2 linked regions of the Homo sapiens genome follow. The protein of the gene in region 1 purifies or fractionates together with the protein of each later gene. This does not show direct contact. Each region holds a gene or a part of one and is shown in the gene's direction. Other genes may lie near its edges. The genes, in order: SBF2 and MTMR1.

What was found.
Region 2: the proteins of SBF2 (region 1) and MTMR1 purify together in Homo sapiens (affinity purification with mass spectrometry; 3 studies listed by BioGRID and IntAct, with this or other methods). This does not show direct contact.

What each region holds. Positions count from the first base shown.
Region 1 is NC_000011.10:9,780,011-9,787,283, reverse strand, and holds part of SBF2 (myotubularin-related protein 13), read left to right. Parts: intron 1-1,965; coding exon 1,966-2,159; intron 2,160-2,845; coding exon 2,846-2,933; intron 2,934-4,174; exon of another isoform or gene 4,175-4,244; intron 4,245-5,645; coding exon 5,646-5,777; intron 5,778-6,708; exon of another isoform or gene 6,709-6,737; intron 6,738-6,767; coding exon 6,768-6,866; 3' UTR 6,867-7,273. UniProt on the Homo sapiens protein: Guanine nucleotide exchange factor (GEF) which activates RAB21 and possibly RAB28. Promotes the exchange of GDP to GTP, converting inactive GDP-bound Rab proteins into their active GTP-bound form.
Region 2 is NC_000023.11:150,688,959-150,696,466, forward strand, and holds the start of MTMR1 (phosphatidylinositol-3-phosphate phosphatase MTMR1), read left to right. Parts: upstream 1-4,437; 5' UTR 4,438-4,572; coding exon 4,573-4,718; intron 4,719-7,508. UniProt on the Homo sapiens protein: Lipid phosphatase that specifically dephosphorylates the D-3 position of phosphatidylinositol 3-phosphate, generating phosphatidylinositol. Could also dephosphorylate phosphatidylinositol 3,5-bisphosphate to produce phosphatidylinositol 5-phosphate.

The sequences.
Region 1 (7,273 bases):
TTTAAAACAACAAAATATGCTACCCTGTGTTGTTCACAGTCCCTTTTCTGTTTCTGACTTAAGAAACATTTATCATAAAAATATTTTAACGGCCGGGTGCGGTGGCTCACGCCTATAATCCCAGCACTTTGGGAGGCCGAGGTGGGCGGATCACGAGGTCAAGAGATCGAGACCATCCTGGCCAACATGGTGAAACCCCGTCTCTACTAAAAATACAAAAATTAGCTGGGTGTGGTGGCGCATGCCTGTAATCCCAGCTACTCAGGAGGCTGAGGCAGGAGAATCTCTTGAACTCAGGAGGCGGAGGTTGCAGTGAGTGAGCCGAGATCGTGCCACCACACTCCAGCCTCGTGACAGAACAAGACTCCGTCTCAAAAAAATGTATATATATATTTTAAAACCAAATACTCTGTTTTCTGCTTCTCATACCCCATTTCCTATTTCTGATTTAAGAAACATTTATCAAGCACATAATATGTGGAAGGGTCTGTGCTTAGTACAGTACACACCTTCGTATCCTATTTAATCCACTGTGAGGGAATGGCGTTCCCTCTCCTACACAAGGAACAGGCACAGAGAGCATACAGTGGCAACTGGTAGAGCCACCAATCGAACCCACATCAGACTGGCTCCAAATGCAACAGAAGGGAAATTAGGACAGATGAGTGTTCTGAAGAACAGTTCAGGAAGAAGAGGCCAGCAGGTCAGATGTTACAGAAAGGTCAAGAAGAATGGAGGGTAGAAGAAAACCTTTGTGGTAAAAAAAGAACATCTGGGGCTCTATCTCTTACCCTCAAATAGCAATTCAGGAGCTGTTATCAGACAGACAACAGGTGGGTGATGCCTTAATGCTTTTTTGTTAGAAAAATAATAGTTTATTGATTTTTTCTAATAATGAAAGTAATAATGTTCATTTTTTTGAAAGAACACACAGAAAGTTATAAAAGATGAGAATCACCCATAATTTATAACCTAGAAGTAAACCACTATGCTATCAAACTTGTTTTACCCTTATAAATTCACATATAAAAGAGATTTTCTAGACATACTATTTTAAACCTGCTTTTTCACTCCACGTTGGCATACGTGTCCTTCCAACTGTCACTGTGTATAAACCAGTGTCTGCCAGGCGCAGTGGCTCATGCCTGTAATCCCAGCACTTTGGGAGGCCGAGGCAGGCATGAAGTCAGGAGTTCGAGACCAGCATAGCCAGCATGGTGAAACTCTGTCTCTACTAAAAATACAAAAAATTAGCCAGGCATGGTAGTGTGTGCCTGTAATCCCAGCTACTTGGGAGGCTGAGTCAGGAGAATCACTTGAACCCAGCAGGCAGAGGTTGCAGTAAGCCGAGATCATGCCACTGTACTCCAGCCTGGGCGATAGAGTGAGACCCTGTCTCAAAAAAAAAACCATCAACATCTTTATTTTTTTTGAGATAGTGTCTCACTCTGTCACCTAGGCTGGAGTGCAGTGGCGTGATCATGGCTCACTGCAGCCTCAACCTCCAGGGTTCTGGTGATCATCCCAAGTAGCTGGGACTACAGGCACACACCACCATACCTGGCTCATTTTTAAAATATTTTTTGTAGAAATGGGGCTTCGCCATGTTGCCCAGGCTGGTCTCGAACTCCTGGACTCAAGTGATCCACTCACCTCGGCCTCCCAAAGTGCTAGGATTACATGCATGAGCCACCACGCCTGGTCATAGCAGCATCATTTTTTAATGGCTGTCTAGAATTCCACTGTATGGAAATGCCATAATTTGTTTAATGTCCCTAATAATGGACGTGTAGGTTGTTTCCAGTTTTTTACCACGATAACTAACTCTGAGATTGATACCTTTGTACATTATTGTTGCTTATTAGTCCAGTTTTTTCCTTGAGATAAATATTTGTAAATGAAATTTTCCAGTCAGTAGTTTAAGTGTCTGTAAAGGTTTCCTAGCTCCTGTCCTGTCTTTTTCAGTCCCAAAGACACCTGTCGAGATCCCCAGGAATTGTGTCTACCAACCTACCTTCCTATCAGAAGAGGTCTCTGCTACATCTCCCAGACAGCAGCATGGGGGAGGAACAGAATTCCAGCATCTCCCCATCCAATGGAGTGGAGCGAAGAGCAGCCACGCTCTATAGCCAGTATACATCCAAGAATGATGAAAACAGGTGACATGCTGAACCCTGCTCGCTGTGCTGAAGACTTCCCCACAGCACCTGAGGCTAAACCACAGGTCCCTCAATAAGCTAGGCCTGTGCAGTACAGCCTTTTATAAACTTGAAATGGATTTGCTTTAATTTTTGTAATGTTTTAGATGTTTCTTTGAAAAGACAAAAAACAAAAATTACAACTAAAAATAATTCGAAGAGGTTGTAGTTATTTGTAGTTGAGTCCTGATGGCTCTTATCTCCTGTCTGCCAGAACGTTTGAGGGAACATGTGTCAGCCAGCACTTTGTCAGTGGCACACATCAGAAATCCAGCTTATGCTAGCTGAAGCAAAAAGGAATTTACTCACATAAGCTAGGACAGCCAAGGGTATGCTAGCTTCTCACACAGTATCTTCTATCCACTTCCTGGCTCTGCTTTGCCCTCTCTCTGTGTTATGTCAGTCCCAACATGGCACAAAGGATGGCTACTGATCATTCCAAGCCTCACAGATGTGGTAATCCCAGCAGAAAGCAGCAGTCTTTCCCCAGAGGTCTAGCAGAAAAAATCCAGGGAGAACTCTTATAGGCCATTTTTGAATCATCTAGGGGAAATAGAGACTTGACAAAAACAACAGATATCCCCTCCCCTTTACAGCATTTTGTAAGTGTAAATCAAAATTAACTCTCCTGTCATCATTTCTTCTAGGTCCTTTGAGGGAACACTTTATAAAAGAGGGGCTTTGCTGAAAGGTTGGAAGCCCCGTTGGTTTGTTTTGGATGTAACAAAACATCAGGTAATACTCTTAAAGCCAAAAGAAATTACTTCTGTCTAGGCTAGTCCCAGTCCCTGGCTATTATGTGGCTCTAGCAGACAGATAGATTCCTCATGTACAGACTGCTTTTTTAGTGCCTCTCATATGTAGTCTGGAGGCTCCTCAAGGGCCCCAGATGTCCCTGAGTAAGGGCAATAGCCTTCTGAGGGAGTTTCCCAAGTAGCTCGGCCTGGTACATGCAGGCAGAGGCAGCAACAATTGAGCCCAGAGCATAGAGCAATAGAACTCTTTTTTTAATGCTCAAATATCTCTTGCTGCCTGATCTTAACACCCAGGTGAGGGGATTCCTGAGGTTTTCAGCCAGTTGCATACATACCACATGCACATATAAGCCTATGCCTGTGAACACTCCCCAGAATACAAGTTACCTTCGTCCTCGCAGCAGAAAGCATCCATTCAAAACAGAGGGCATTAATTTATTCTACAAACATTTATCGAACACCACCTCTGTGCCCACTGCTGTACTGGTTACTAAAGGAGGCACTGTTACCCTTCAAAGATGGCAGCAACAGGGGAGTAAAGGGGCCCCAAAAGCGGCAGAAGGGGATGTGCCCACCCAAACTTGGAATTCACCGTGGGCAAGTACTAGACTGGTCCTTGCTGACTATGTCAAGAAATCTTTTGACTACTGTTAGGTTCTTAGCTATTCCTGTAGCAGCCTCTGCAATCCTTAGCATCATAGTCTTTACTCCAGTGATTTCAAGGGAGAGCAGTTCCTACCCAAACCTCCAGCAACTCTGCACCCTGCATTACTGAGAGCTGCATGGTCTCCTGTGTTCTGACTGCAGGCCTTAACTCCACCTTGGGACTGACCACTCAGCCTTGAGGCTGAGGCTTACACATTTTGATTCTCAATGCATTTATCTATAAAATGGAATCTGTTAGGAAAAACCTGAACTGTTACTCCTGTACAGTGCTTTGGTTGGACCTGCATCTAAAAGACTCCTTCCAAATGAAGACTGTATTTGGAGTCCAGCTTTTCCTCTGCTCAAGGAGTTTCATAACGATTACAGAGTCTTTGTGGGACAATATAGATAGATAATTTATGTTCAAATATACAAATGGAAGCCCTGTTAGGGAGCTATACTCTGAAATCATAGAGCCTACACTGTGTAAAAAAGTTCCATTAAGCTTCTAAATATAACATAGGAGAATGTCATAATTTTTCTATAATTTACATCAAATTACACTTGCATTCTTACCAGTCTTCTGGACTTCTTTAACATGAAAGATAGATACAGTTTTTTCCACTTAGCCCTGCTCATACCATGCCTGAGAGGAGAGACAGAGAAAAGTCTCAGGTCAGAGCCACGGTATCAGAAGCACCACTTTCTTGCCATGTATACTAGAGAGTGAAATCCACAGATTATGGCCCAATAAGGCTTATTCCCTAGCAGTCTCTTTGACTTTTTTCCTTTTTTCTTTTTTTTTTTTTTTCTTTTGAGACAGAGTCTCGCTTTGTCACCCAGGCTGGAGTGCAGTGGTGCAATCTCGGCTCACTGCAAGCTCCACCTCCTGGGTTCTCGCCATTCTCTGGCTCAGCCTCCCGAGTAGCTGGGATTACAGGCGCCTGCCACCATGCCCAGCTAATTTTTGTATTTTTAGTAGAGACGGGGTTTCACCATATTGGTCAGGCTGGTCTCAAACTCCTGACCTCAAGTGATCCACCCGCCTCAGCCTCCCAAAGTGTTAGGATTACAGGCATGAGCAACCGTGCCCGGCCTGGAAAGATGTTTCAATAGGCATAAACATTCTAAATTTTAGTTGATATTGCCAAATTGTTCTCCAAAAAATTTCTAACAAATTATATTCACACTGGCAGTATTTGAGATGATCTAGTACCTTATTGGATATCATCAGCCATTTTTAATATTTCTCAATCCAAAAGTGAAATCTCATTTATTGTCATTTATTTTTCTTTGATTAATGAGGTTGATCATCTTTTCAGATGTTTATAGATCATTTGTATTTCTCTGTGACTCGCCTGTTGAGATATTTTGAGCATTTTTCTACTTTATCTTTTTCTTATCAATTTCTGGGAATTCTGTATATTACTAAACATTAGCCCTCTTTTTATATGTTACATATACTTTTTACAGTTGTTACTTGACTTCTTTTTTTTTTTTTTATTTTTTGAGACAGGGTCTTACTCAGGCTGGAGTGCAGTGGCAGGATCTCAGCTCACTGCAGCTCGACCTCACAGGCTCAAGCAATCCTCCCACCTCAGCCTCCTGGGTAGCTGCAACTACGGGCATGCACCACCACGATTGGCTGATTTTTGTATGTTTTTGTAGAGACGGGGTTTCACCATGTTGCCCAGGCTGGTCTCGAACTCCTGGGCTTAAGTGATCCGTCCACCTTCACCTCCCAAAAAGGACTGGGATTACAGGCATAAACCACCATGCCCAGCCTTGATTCTATTTTTTAAGATGTAATACATTTATTTGTTTGATTTTCAAACAGTACATAAGTCTTTCCCCCAATGCTTTCTCCAAGCCACCTAGTTCTTCCTAGAAGCAACAAGTATTATTAATTAATTTTTTGTGTATTCTTCGAGGCATAGTTCAGCATATATAACCAAGGTACAGAGGAAGGTATTCAAATGCAGTTTGAAAAGCCATGGCATTTTCTCTTTCTGTCTCTTATATCTCACTTGTATCCTTTTGGTTCCAGCTGCGCTACTATGACTCAGGTGAGGACACAAGCTGTAAAGGCCACATTGATCTGGCTGAAGTAGAAATGGTCATCCCTGCTGGCCCCAGCATGGGAGCCCCAAAGCACACAAGTGACAAGGCTTTCTTTGATGTAAGTTGATCTTACTTCTCTTTTCCTGGCTCTGTCTGCACATCATTCTGTCTGTCTCCAAGAATGATGGAGCCCTCAGAGTAATTGGTGGTGACTACAGATGGATGACAGACCCCCTTGGCTATGGGAATTGTTCCAGAGCTTGAACTCAGCATTATTGACCCCCAAGGCTATCCTCTCTTCCTGTCTGTATGTCTCAGAAAAGCTACATATTGCTTTGTGCAAAAGGAGTCCAGCGCACATGGAAACAGATGAACTCCTTGTTAAATGTTGTTAGTTATTTCAGTCACCACCTACTTTCAAGAACAGATGCTATTTCCCTAGTATTCAGTGGTCTTCGTGCTTGACTACCCACAAAAGACTGTCCTTAGTCACACATGATAAGTGTCTACGCTAACATCTTCAGCAGCCCTTAGGTAGGCCATGGGGCACTTTATAGGCCACATAATAGAAGGAGACTTATGTAGTCCCTGGAGTCAAGCAGGGCTTTATAAAGAGGATAGGTCATCCTCTATGGCCCTGCTCAGGCCATGAGACCGTTTTCCTGACAGTGGGCTTCCAATATGGCTCCAACTAAAGAAAGGGGACACGAAGGCCAACTTTATGGTATGCATGAATCTCAGGCATCCCCCTGGAGCACAAGGAGCTCCCTCACCTTCAGTGCATTGGTGCAGTGCATGGGAAAGGTTAAAGGCACCATTCATTGCTGACCCTTCCTCCTTAGTCAAAGACGACACTAAGAAAATGCAAAATAAGGCGCTCCCAGTGTGTCTCCCTTTCCTGCCAGTACCCTTCTATCAACATCCCCTATGACTCTAGAGACCACAAAAGTAAAGGCAATAACAGTATGGTAGTTGAGGAAGAAAAATTCATACAGACGTTCTGGGGCAGTATGGAAAAGAAAGGTCACAGGAACTGATTTACCACTTACCCAAATCCATAAAACAGCCCTGCCCTTCATCTCTGGTTCACTGTCATTTGGTTTTGTAGCTCAAGACCAGCAAACGTGTGTATAACTTCTGCGCCCAGGATGGACAGAGTGCCCAGCAATGGATGGACAAGATCCAGAGTTGTATCTCTGATGCCTGATGCCCATGGTCAACCCACGCAGAAGAAACAGAAGAACTCATGCTGCCAGATAGATAGAAAAAGAAGCATGGATCCTTGAGGAGCTGACAACAAGTTATCCCAGGGCCTGAGGTTCTCCTGCCCAGTCCCCTCTTGCAGGGGTTGCTATATCTACTTAACCTGAATAGGTGTTTCACACAGGTCTGGTCAACAGCCCCATGCACTCCCTGTATCTTGCACTAAATTTTTCTAACAGGGTCTTAGTGGTTAATGATCAGAAGATGTCTCCTGAGCCAACTGTGAACCTCACCCAGGCAAAATGGCTACCACCTACTTGGGTCCTTCTTCATGAAAGCTATAGATCCTTTTTTGTTCTCTGAGGTCATAATTTCCTCGGAGACCTGTTTAACAAGCAAAAATCAAAACCC
Region 2 (7,508 bases), on another chromosome or scaffold:
CAACTCCAGCTCCAGGTGGCATACAAAAACCATGTGCCTGTCCTCTTAGAGTGATTTCTAGGAATGCAGTATAGTCAGCCCAGCAACTATGACTAGACCCCCATGTGGGCAGAAGGGGGTGGTAGGGCCTGTGTGTGTTTGGAGACAATTCACCATGACTATCTCCGGTTTCAGCATGGTCAGGGTTCTCTGAGGAAATACATTTACAGCCACGTTAGTAAAGTTGGTATGAGGAGACATTCCAATCCAGGGTAGTAAATGTAAATCTCCACAAAGGACATTTGTTTACATCTGATCATTCATTCCAAGGTAACGAGTAATCTCTCTCCCTGCAGGGGAGAATGGGTAGGTCACTAGTAGCCAGAGTTTCCTGCGTTGGGGTTTTCTCTCCTGTGGTGTATCCCATTACATGTGCAGATACTATCTAGCCTCCTATTGGTCAAAGGCAGTTACAGGCCAGCCCCCATTCAAAAGGAGGGGAAATAGGTACCACCTGTTTTTGTTTTGTTTTGTTTCGTTTTGTTTGAGACGGAGTCTCGCACTGTCGCCCAGGCTGGAGTGCAGTGGCAGGATCTCAGCTCACTGCAACCTCTGCCTCCTGGGTTCAAGCGATTCTCCTACCTCAGCCTCCCAAGTAGCTGGGATTATAGGCATGTGCCACCACGCCCGGCTAATTTTTGTATTTTTAGTAGAGATGGGCTTTCGCCACGTTGGCCAGGCTGGTCTTGAACTCCTGACCTCAGGTGATCTGCCCACCTCGGCCTCCCAAAGTGCTAGGATTACAGGCGTGAGCCACCACGCCCAGCCGATACCACCTCTTAATGTAAGAGTGGCAAGGTTGCACTGCAGAACAGCATGCCACCCTGTAGAGACTGGGGTTCAGGATGCAGATCCAAGATATTGCTGTGGCTGCTGATTTTGCTGTGAATAATAAACTGTCTTTGTTTCGGATCCAGAGGCTTTATATTTTCTCTCAGAGTGTTAGAGTGTGGTGATCAACTAAATTTTCAGCTTGCTAGTAGGGTAAAATCTTAGATTATAACAGCTTCTGACCTACTACTGTGGAGTACCCTCCTTGGAGTGTGGCTGTGATTTGTGCATGGATTCCTATAGCTGAATGGGGAAGGGAGCTGAGCAGGTAGGGGATTACTTCTCTGGATCATTCATCAAGAGCAATGCTTGGGTGCTCTATTGCTGCACAAAAAATCACCCCAAAACCTAGTGGCTTAAAACCATAATTCATTAGTTTTCAAAAATCTGTGAGTCAATTGTATGATTCATCAGCTTCATGTGGTGTTGGCTAGGCCACCAGAATGACTGAAAGGCTTGAAATGGCCTCACTCACATAGCTGGCAGTTAGTGCTGGCTTCTGGCCATGCTGCCTGGGGAACTCAGCTAGGGCTATTGGCTGAGAGCTTTGGTTCTCTTCCATATGGGCCTCTCCCTGTGGCTGCTTGGGCTTCCTCAGAGTATGGCAGCTGACTTCCAAGAAGGAGTATGCACAGAAAGCAAACTGGAAGTTGCAAATCCCTTAAGGGTTAGCCTTGGAAATTATACAGCATCACCTCTGCTACATTCTATTGGTCAAAGGGGTTACAGGGCCAGTCCACATTCAAGGAGAAGGTAAACAGAATCCACCTCTTGATGTATGAGTGGTAAGATCACCTTGCAAAAGAGTGTGTGGGATGGGGGATATTATTGCAGCAGTCTTTGGAAGCACAATCTATCAAATGGACGTAGATGGGGGACTATACAATAGTATTTCTCCAAGTGCAGCAAGCCCCGCATCAGAATCATGGGAGCATTTGCTGAAAATGCAGACTGGGGCTGATTCTTGCACACTAACATTTGAGATCTGGTGAGCTGCAGAACAAAGCCCAAACTTCTTGGCCTACCACCAGTCCAGATCCTCACTTATCTTGTCTGACTTTATGCTCCAGTAACACTCGATTTCTTGGCATTCTCTTGCACATAATAAGCTATTTAACCTACAGATAGAGTTTGGATGTTTGTGCCGTCCAAATCTCATGTTGAAATGTGAGCCCTAATGTTGGAGTTGGGGCTGAGTAAGGGGTGTCTGGGTTGCAAACTGGATTGTGAACATCCTGAAGGTGGACCCCTCAGGAAAGGCTTTGTGCCCTCCCCGTGGTAATGAGTGAATCCTCGTTCTATGAGTTCATGCAAGAGCTGGTCGTTTGAAAGAGTCTGGTGCCTCCCTCACCTTTCACTTGCTCCTTCTCTCACCATTTGACATGCCTGTTTCCTCTTCGCCTTCCACCATGATTGTAAGCTTGCTGAGGCCCTTACCAGAAGCAGATGCCAGCACAATGCTTCTTGTACGGTCTGCAGAACTGTGAGCCAAAATAAACTTCTTTTCTTTATAAATTACCAGGTCTCTGGTATTCCTTTACAGCAAAGCAAAACAGATTAATATACCTACTAATCCACACCTTTGCCCATAACTGTGCCTTCTGCCTGGAATAACTTGACTCCTTTGCCTCATCAAGGATTTACTCATCTTTAAAGATTCAGTTTTATGTCACCTTTTTGGGGAAGTTTTCCTGACCTCCTCTTCTCCTATGGATTGGGGTAGGTGTTCCACATCCTGTGCAATTGTCCCCATTATAGCACTTGCCAACTTGTAATGTCATTGTTAATTTGTCTGTCCCCTTCACTGGATTGTGAACATCTTAGGCAGGGATATGTCAGATTCATCTCTGTCCTCTAAATCCTAAGTGTACTTAACTGAATTGGAAGTATGACAGTGTCACAGTGAATTCCTCTTTGGCCTAATGTTTCTTAAAGAATATGGTACTTAAAATATGCTTAAAGTTGCACTGTTTTCTTTCTGACAATTCTCAGCACAGCTAAGATGCTTGCAGCTACTTGTAACAAAATACCCAACTAAAAGTGGGTGTCTTAGTGTGCTTAGGCTGCCAAAACAAAATACCATAGACTGGGTGGCTTAAACAACAGAAATTTTCTCACAACTCTGGAGGCTGGAAAGTCCAAGATTAAGTGTCCAGCAGGGACCTAGTAAGGGCTCTGTTCCTGGCTTGCAGATGGCCACCTTCTTGCTGTGTACTCACACGGCCTTTTCTCAGTGTGTGCATGTGAGTGCATGAGATCAAGCTCTCTGGTGACCCTTCTTAAAAAGCACCAGTTCCATCAGACTAGAGCTTGGCCCTCATGACCTAATTGCCTCTCAAAGACCCCATCTCCAAATACCATCACACAGGGAATTAGGGCTTCAACATATGGACTTCAGGGGGATGAAAACATTCAGTCCATAACAGTGGGTTAACCATTTGATTTAATAATTTTAGAAAGCCAGCAACCTGCAGTCGGTGATTCTCCAGTGTGAGATAGGAGCTATTATTGTCTGGGGATCTTCCTTTCCTTCCTCCTAGCCCTCCTCACTCTGTCATCTTCTTACCCCAGGCTCACCTCCTCTTGTGCGTAAGATGGCTGTCGGGGCTTCAGGCATCATATCCTCAAAGTTCAGTTTGAAGTTATTAAGCTGGTGGGGCAGGATGGGTCTGGGATGGGCATGAGTAACTCCCTGTCTGCAGATCTGCCTTTTAACAGTGAGCAAATTGTTCCCTTTATATCTTCTTTTCCAGACCTGGGTCGCAGGCCTCCTGTCTACACCCAGAGCAATCACAGGCAAAGAGGCTTAATCACGAGCCACACACCCACTCCCAACTTAATCAGGGGTGAGGTGAGAGGGGATGAGCTGTTGGATATTCGAACCCAAACAAAATGAGCAAGGAAATAAATCTAGCCCAGAAAGCAAATGTCCTAAATGCCTCACCAAGATATTGGCTTGATGTTCATAGCAGTGATTTTTTAATCAACAGAAGTTAAATGTTACTCTTAACATAAACCATGGGCGGAAGCTCCGAGGGCGGCATCAGAACACTTGGTTGCCCTACAGATGGCAAGGGGGTGGGTTTGTGGCGGGGCGGCGGGGTGCGTATGGAGGGGGAGAGTGGAGGGAAGAATGGGGTGGGGAGGAATTGCTAAAATGCACGGAATTGCTCCTGCTTCAAGATGTCAAGACCGAGGGAGCTTGAGCTGTTCTATACCTTTTCCGGGAAGGACAACTGAGGTGGGAAATCATTTTTGATACTTGAATGTCTTCAAACTTCTTTTTACACCCCACGTCTCTGCAGTCAACCCGGTGTGACTATAGAGTGAAGCACGCTACGCATAATCCGTTTGGGGATTCCGAACCCCAGTGGCTCTGTACGCACCCAGGTCGCTGGAGCAGGAGGTCCCAGATCCCCGCTGTAAGGCTCCGTGGGCGAGCGCCCAGGTGGGGCTGGGCGAGGTGGGGGTTCCCGGCGCCGGCCCCGCGCGCCGCCCTCCCCGCCCCCGCTCCCGCCCCCCGACCCCCGCGCGCGCGGCCTTGTGGGTAACGCGGGGCCGCCAGGTGACAGCTAATGGCGGCGGCCGCCTGAGGCGGGCGGGCGGTATAGAGCGGGCGGCAGGAGGCAAGCAGCGAAACCTTCCCGGCCGCCGCTCCCGTCCCGACGGCGGCTTCCCCAAGGCGGCAGGACTCGGCGCGCCATGGACAGGCCGGCGGCGGCGGCGGCGGCGGGCTGCGAGGGCGGCGGGGGCCCGAACCCGGGGCCGGCGGGCGGCAGGAGGCCTCCTCGGGCCGCGGGGGGCGCCACCGCCGGCTCCCGGCAGCCCAGCGTGGAGACCCTGGACAGGTAAGCGGGGCCCGGGCTGCCCCGGCCTCCCGCGCCCCGACTCCCGAGGGCCCCGCGCGAGGCCAGCCCGCCCCCTCCCCGCGCGCTGCGCAGGGCCTGGCGGTGGCGGGGTGGGCGGCCCCTCTTCATCCCCTCTGGGCCCTCCTCCCCCCCACCCCCGGAAACCTCAGCGCCCCATCCGGGGACTGCTGCCCTCGGACCTGCTGCGGGCCGCGCACCTGGCTCACTTCCGCCCCGAGAGCCCCAGCTCCTGGAACCCCGGGAGGGGCTTCGCAGCTGTCAAACCACTTCCGGCGCCGCCACCTGCTGCCCTTGGCGATCGCTTGGCTGTCCCTGCCCAGGCCACCAATCCTCTTGGGAGGGAGATCCCACCCGGGCTCTCCTCTTCTAGCATCACCTTGCCTCGTGTGGTTTTAAGACCCCAATTCTGCTGTGGCTGCTTAGGGTCTTTGATGGGGGGTTGGGAGTGAGGACGGGGAGATGGGACCCCGCGGGCGTGGGAGCTGGTGCAGATCGAGGCAAAAATCTGAGATGGAAAACGTCCAAACTGCTCAGGAGGCAAGAAAACAGAACCATTTACTTTCAGTTCTTCACACTTTGAGGGAACCAGTTTATTGTTTTCATGAACACACAAGCAAGCCTACTGCTTCTGAGGCAGCTGCAGAACTAAGAGAAATCAGTTAGAAACATAAAGTGACCGTGTCGAACTGGGAGGGGCCACCGCCTCCTCCGACGACAAGAGATGGCCTATCGTGTAACCCGGAACATCCAGTTTTCCCACAACTTGGCCATTTCCCTGACACCAGAGTGCACTCAGGCAGCATGCACTGTTGGAATGTAGCTCAGTCAGTTTTACATGCCCATTCCTGCCTGTCTTGGTCATCCCATTGTGCCAAACTTTTGGGAGTTTCCAAAAGCACAGAAACAAGAAACATTCCCTTCACTTTTGTTTCTACCTCAGTGTAATTACAATATATTTTAATAAATTAATCACCCAAGTGGTTAGTGTCACTGAAAACCAGTCACAGCTAAGACAGCACTTGAAATGGTGAGGACTTCACTCATCTGCAAATATTCAACCACACACGAGGTCTGGGCGATTCAGAGAATAGCACAACACGGCTTTTGCTGCCTTACCATTTTGCTAGACTTACCATCTAGTGGAGAATACAAACCAACCAACAGTGGAAATCGAATGTGATAAATGAGATAGGTGGTAGAGGCGAACACAGAAGTACTCAGGATGGGCATGCATCAGAATCATTTAAGAAGCCAAAGGAGACCAGAATGTGTCACCCCCAAATATGCCTCATCTTCTGGTTTCCTTCAGAGATTTTGATGATCAGGGAAAGCCTGAGAAAGCTGACATTTGAGTAATGCCCCCAAAGAGGCGAGGGATCCAGCCATACAGATACCTGGGGGTGATAGTATTCTAGTCAGAGGCCTGTGCAAAGCCCCTGAGGTGAATGTGAGCCAAGTGTTCCTAGATCAGCGAGGAGACTAGGTGTCACTAGCAGGGAGGGAGCTAGGGAGAGACAAGTAAGGGATGACGTTAGAGAAGTCACAGAGCCAGATGGTGGAGAGCCTCAGAGGCCATGGGGAGCCACTGGGGACTTTGTGCAGAGGAGTGACATCATCTGTTGTAGATTTCAGTAGGCTCTCCATGGTGCTATGTGGACAATAGAGTGAAAGGGGAAGGAGCTGAAGCAGAGACTGTCAGTAGGAGGCTATTGTAGTAAGCCAAGTGAGATGGTGGTCCAGAGTGGAGCGGAGGAGGGGAGAAGTGGTCAGATACTACATGTAATTTGAAGACCTGCAGGGTAGAGCCAATGGGGTTTGCTGAAGATTGGTTGGTTGGTATGAGAGAAGAATCTGGGAGAATTCCAAAATTTTAGCTTGTGGGAAAATTGTGTTGCTGAGATGGAGAAGTCTTTCTAAGGTGGAGCAGGGTTAGAAAATAGCAGGCTCTTCGCTCTGGACATATCAATTTTGAGATGCCAATTATATGTCCCAGAATAGATGTCAAAGATATAGTTGATCTATCTGAGCCTGGAGTTCAGGGTTGTCTGGGCTGGAGATTCAAACTGGGGAGTCATGGGCTTATAGATGAGGCTTAAATTCATGAGGCAGGTGGAGTTCACAGAAGAATGATGGAGGTCTGGAAAAGGGAATTGGGCTAGGAATAGGGCTGGGTGGATTTTCAAGATGCTTACCAGGTAAGAGTGACCCGACATGGTGAGCATTCAGATGTGAGGGGGGAGTGCCGGGTGGACTCCAAGGCAAACCTCAGCTTTCTAGCGTGTGGGGGCCGGATAACTGGCTGTGCTGCGCCCTGAGTTAGGAAACACAGGAGCAGAGTAGGTTGCGGGGCTGAGCGGCTGATGCTGGTTTAGACAGGTTGAATTGGCAGGGTCTCTGGGCCAGACTAGTGGACAGGTCTTGTAGGAACATCAGCATTGAGATCAGGAGAGTCCAGGTTGGAGAAACAGAGCTGGGAGCCTCCAGCCTGTAAGTAGTTATTGACACCAGGAGTATAGAGGGCAATTGCACAGACTACAGAGAAGGGATGGGGGAGGAATCATGGCCTCCTTTCTCAGTTCTGTCAGCTCAACAAGCTCAGATTCACACTTTTCTTTGAAGAGTGACCTCTAGAATGGAACCTGGCTCTATGGGTGGGACTTGGCCATGTCCCTGGGACTATGGGGCCTTCACTTCTCTTCTGAATACTGTAATTAATAATGAGGAAGCTGTGGTCCTGTAAGAGGATGTGTCTTGCCAAAGATCATGGAG